Linked DNA regions of Homo sapiens: region 2 is linked to region 1. Evidence: fine-mapped expression QTL. A gene starts in region 1. The other region holds a variant in brackets. All regions are shown on one strand. Distances are from middle to middle.

What was found. PIP is the estimated chance that this variant, and not a neighbour inherited with it, causes the effect.
Region 2: its variant is fine-mapped to the expression of SERPIND1 in subcutaneous fat (GTEx, PIP 0.97).

Annotation. Positions count from the first base shown.
Region 1 is chr22:20,772,895-20,775,394 of GRCh38, forward strand. SERPIND1 (serpin family D member 1) reads left to right here and starts at 1,219. Exons shown (of 5, transcript NM_000185.4): 1 at 1,219-1,251. All of the region lies in intron 19 of PI4KA (phosphatidylinositol 4-kinase alpha), which reads right to left.
Region 2 is chr22:21,079,344-21,082,361 of GRCh38, forward strand. It overlaps the pseudogene LOC112268300. Among named protein-coding and RNA genes, the nearest start is that of LRRC74B, 35 kb to the left of the region's middle. The variant C/T (reference allele first, on the strand shown) is at 1,399.

The DNA of each region.
Region 1 (2,500 bases):
GCCTAGGCAACATAGTGAGACCCTGTCTCTACAAAAAAGTCAAAAGTTAGCTAGACATGGTGGTGTGCACCTGTATTCCCAGCTACTTGCAGGGCTGAGGTGAGGAGGATTGCTTCAGCTCGGGAGGTTGAGGCTGCAGTGAGCCAAGATCACGCCACTGCACTCCAGCCTGGGTAACAGAGTGAGACCCTGTCTCAAAAAACACATAGGGCCAGGCGTGGTGGCTCACGCATGTAATCCCAGCACTTTGGGAGGCCGAGACGGGAGGATCACTTCACTCCAGGAGTTCAACACCAGCCTGGCCAACATAGTGAAACCCCGTCTCTACTAAAAATACAAAAAATTAGTTGGACATGGTGGTGTGCGCCTGTAATCTCAGCCACTCAGGAGGCTGAGGCAGGAGAACGCTTGAACTTGGGAGACAGAGGTTGCAGTGAGCTGAGATCGCACCACTGCACTCCAGCATGGGCAGCAGCGCGAAACTCTGTCTCAAAACAAACAAACAAACAAACAAACACCCATAAACACAAAATGTATCACAGCCTCAGAGATCCCCACGAATGCCTAAGTGGCCCTGAATTTGGGAGGCACTGCTCAGTAATAGTCCTATCTGTCCCACAACAGACAGGAGTGCTGGGCTGCACCTACTGGCAACAAACACAGCAACCCTTGACTGAAGAAAGGTCCATGCCACAATCCCCTTATTCTGTAAGCCACTAATTTTGTCCTCTCTCCTCCACCTTTCACTGAGGAACGAGCTCTTGGAAGGACAGGGACACCCGCCTAGTAGCTGAGCCAGCCACATCAGTCCTGGAGAGCAGGTGGAGGGCAGATGCTGTGATCATCCCAGAAGAGAGGACACAGTTGGAGGCAGATGCATGGTCTCTACTTTCAGCTACCCTCAATGCAGCCTGGTCCCCAGAGGCCTGAAGAGCGCCTTGTTTATGTGGTGACCTCAAGAGGGGCTGCTCCTGCACCAAGGCTATGTGTGCATGCTAACACAGTAACCGTCATATACTCAAAGTGTCAGCTCTAAGAACTGGAGATGAGGAGCTGCAAGCCACTCTACAGTTATCAAAGGCACAGCTGAGGGGGTTTGTGCTGACCAAGCTGGTTGCCTGGTGTTTGGATTGGGACTTATTTACTTTGGAAAATATGCAGCAACAGCCCAGCACCAAAGTTCACATCAAAATCCCACTGATGACCTTGGCTGCTTTCATCTCTGAAGCGCCACTTCTCAGAAACACAGAGGTAAGTTGGGTTTCTAATGTTTCTGCTGATTATAAATTATTTTTGGTGTTTACGGATAGGCAACTGGTTCATTTTTCTAGCAAACTAAGAATTCAGAAGCTTTCTACACTGTTTTAGAAGTGGGAAATGGTTTCATTTTTCAGTGTGCCTATTATAAAATTGTGTCAGTTCCATTGTTGGGAGAGTTGACAAACTTAGAATAGGAGCTGTGGAATAGATGAAAATATTGTACTTATATTAAATTAATCGAATTGGATAACTGTCCTGTGATTATGTATGAGAATATCCTTGCTCTTGGGTATTTTCCCTGAAGTATTAGTATTAAAGGTTAGAGGGGCCGGGTGCAGTGGCTCACGCCTGTAATCCCAACACTTTGGGAGGCCGAGGCGGGTGGATCACGAGGTCAGGAGTTCAAGACCAGCCTGACCAACATGGTGAAGCCAAGTCTCTACTAAAAATACAAAAATTAGCTGGGCGTGGTGGCACGCGCCTGTAATCCCAGCTACTCAGGAGGCTGAGGCAGGAGAATCGCTTAAACCCGGGAGGCAGAGGTTGCAGTGAGCGGAGATCGTGCCACTGCACTCCAGCCTGGACAACAGAGTTAGACTCCGTCAAAAAAAAAAAAAAAAAGAAGAAAAAAGAAAAAATGTTAGAGGAACAAGATATAGGAGACCTACTCTCAAATGGTCTAGAAGAAAAAATGTGTATGTGCATGCCTGTGAGAACACACACGTACGTACACACACACACAGATAATGACAGGGCAAAGGTTCCAAAATTTTAAACCTGGTAAATCTCGGTACGGGTATACAGGAGTTGTTCTACTACACTATTCTTTCAACATTTTTGGAAGTTTGAACTTACTTCAAAATAAAAAGTTTTCCAAACTTTAGGCAGTTACTTCTCTCCCATTCTGCCTGCTCTGTTGGGCCTGGAGACCATACACCAGGAGGGATGACGGTTTATCAAGTGTTATGCTCTGATGCGTGACTGAAAAGGCCAACCCAGCTCTGGCAATTAGCAAGAAAGCACAATATGAAGTTCCCAGGAAAAAAAAAAAGCAAAACAAACTTTTGAATGATTTATCTTTAAAATATATTGTTTCTCTTCAAACAGTAATCTGGATTTAATCACAACCTAGTGATAGTTTTTAAACGTCTTCTACAATGTTTGTTATACTAAATAGCAAAACATCAGGAAGATTTACCTTCAGATCTTTAATTTCAATCCATAAAAGATATCAGAGATA
Region 2 (3,018 bases), 310 kb after region 1:
ATGGGGGCAGCCGGCTCTCCGCCCCTTCTCAGGATGCCTGTGTGGGTGTCCTCATGCTTCCAGGTGGGGAGCCAGCTCTGGGCCTCCTTCCAGTGGCCGGGGAGGTTTTGCTGCATTTCAGAGGGAGCCGTCAGGAGCAGAAGCAACATGTGGGGAGGAAAGCAGAGACGGAGGCTCCACCATGACACACTCTCAGCCTCAGCATCTGCTCAGCCCCAGTCACCATGCTGGAGAGAGGAGGCCCTTCAGGCCCCGCAGGCCTCTGTACCCTGGGAGTTCTGCCTCTGACTCTTGTCCTGCAATCCTCAGAGGGAAGCTGGCCAGGGCTGGTCAAGCCCCTGCATAGGACCTGGGCCCAAGTGGGGTACAGGCAGGGGGTGGCAGGAAGACTTCTGCCTGCCCTGCTCCCTCGGCACTTTCCTGGAGGCTGTAATGCCACAAGACAGGATCAAAACTGTGCTGTTGTTTTTTTTTCGAGAGGAGTCTCACTGTCACCCAGGCTGGAGTGTAATGGTGTGATCTTAGCTCACTGCAACCTCCGCCTCCTGGATTCAACTGATTCTCTTGCCTCAGCCTCCAGAGTAGCTGGGATTACAGGCGTGTGCCACCACACCCAGCTAATTTTTGTATTTTTAGTAAAGATAGGGTTTTACCATTTTGGCCAGGCCAGTCTCAAACTCTTGACCTGAAATGATACGCCTGCCTCAGCCTCCCAAAGTACTGGGATTACAGGTGTGAGCCACTGCTCCTGGCCCAAAACTGTCTTTTAAAAATATTTTTGGGGGTGCTGGGTGTGGTGGCTCACACCTGTAATCCCAGCACTTTGGGAGGCCGAGGTGAGCAGATCATGAGATCAAGATATCGAGACCATCCTGGCCAACATGATGAAACCCCGTCGCTGCTAAAAGTACAAAAAAATTAGCTGGGATTGGTGGCGCATGCCTGTAGTCCCAGCTACTTGGGAGGCTGAGGCAGGAGAATCACTTGAACTTGGGAGGCGGAGGTTGCAGTGAGCCGAGATAGCACCACTGCGCTCCAGCCTGGCGACAAAGCGAGACTCCGTTTCAAAAAAAAAAAAAATCTTTTTTTTTTTTTTTTTTTTTTTTTTACAGACAGGGTCTCACTCTGTCATCCAGACTGGTCTCAAACTCATGGCCTCAAACGACCTTCCCCCCTTGGCCTCCCAAAGTGCTTGGATTGGAGGCATGAGCCCCTGCGCCTAGCCCAAAGTCGTCTTGATTCCTGACTTTGTGGAATGGAGGCATGAGTGAAGAGGTGGGGAGAGGCTGAGGAGGAGGAGCCCTAGCCCACCTGGAGCACCGTGGGGCACGCACTCTGCGTCCACCTGGCCTGGACATGCCTCCTAAGGATAACAGCGAAGCCAGGGAGCAGAGCCCA[C/T]GGATGGGCCCTGCAGCTGCTGGGCTGAGACCGACAGACAGGCGTGGTCACTCCGGGCCATGCTGGCGCTGTGCTGCCCCTGCCCCTCTCCACCCCACCTCCCGACCACTGGGGCAGGGACAATGGGCCCGGCTCTGACTTCGGGCACGCTCGTCGTGTGCAGAGACACGGCCGCAGAGTCCTGGGGCTCGCTCGCCATCCTCTGCCCGGCACACATCGACTTGAGCATCTGGAAGACGGCCACGGGGGCCACGTTCAACTTCACCTGGCTCTGAAGCTGGCCGCTGTGGGCTGCATGAGAATGGTGTTTCTATAAAACATGGGAATTGCTGGTCAGACACAGTGACTCATGCCCGCAATCCTACCATTTTGGGAGGCTGAGGCGGGAGGATCGCTTGAGCCTAGGAGTTTGAGACCAGCCTAGGGAACACAGCAACACCTCATCTCTACACACACACACACACACACACACACACACACACACAATTAGCTGGGCATGATGGCATGCACTTGTAGTCTCAGCTACTAAGGAGGCTGAGGTGGGAGGATCACTTCAGCCCAGATTGAGGCTGCAGTGAGCCATGATCATGCCATTGCATTGCAGCTACTTGGGAGGCTGAGGCAGGAAGATCATGTGAGCCCAGGAGTTTGAGGTTGCAGTGAGCTGTGCCTCTAATCCCAGCACTTTGGGAGGCTGAGGTGGGCGGATCACAAGGTCAGGAGTTCGAGACCAGCCTGACCAACATGGTGAAACCCCATCTCTACTAAAAGTATTTAAAAAATTAACCTGGTGTGGTGGCGGGCGCCTGTAGTCCCAGTTACTCAAGAGGCTGAGGCAAGAGAATCGCTTGAACCCAGGAGGCGGAGGTTGCAGTGAGCCGAGATCATGCCATTGCACTCTAGCCTGGGCGACAGAGCAAGACTCCGTCTCAAAAAAAAAAGATTATGCTGAAATTTACCACTATTGGTATGAATGATCAGTATTCACCAAGCATATCTGAACATGCAAATGTTTAAGAAATAAGCATAATAAGGATATAGCTTGGGTTAATAGGATTCTCATAGTTTTTTTCCCCTATGAAACATAAGTAATAATTTTAGCATATTTATTATGGATTATACTCATTTAAAAAGGACTTTAAGAAGTTGTGCTTTGGGAGGCAGAGGCAGGTGGATCACAAGGTCAGGAGTTCGAGACTAGCCTGGCCAAGATGGTGAAACCCCATTTCTACAAAAAATACAAAAATTAGCCAGGCGCAGTGGCGGGCACCTGTAATCCTAGCTACTCTGGAGGCTGAGGCAGGAGAATCGGTTGAACCCAGGAGGCGGAGGTTGCAGTGAACTGAGATCGTGCCACTGCACTCTAGCCTGGGTGACAGAGCAAGACTCCATCTCAAAAAATAAAAAAAAGAAGTTGTGGATGTGAATAATACATTTCTCTAATAAAAATTTAAATTGTATAATAGTTTAATAAAGTGTTTACATTCATTGATTTTTTTTTTTTTAAGACAGAGTTCCGCTCTGTCACCCAGGCTGGATTTCAATGGCATGCGATCTTGGCTTACTGCAACCTCTCCCTCCTGGTTTCAAGCAGTCCTCCCACCTCAGACTCCCAACTAG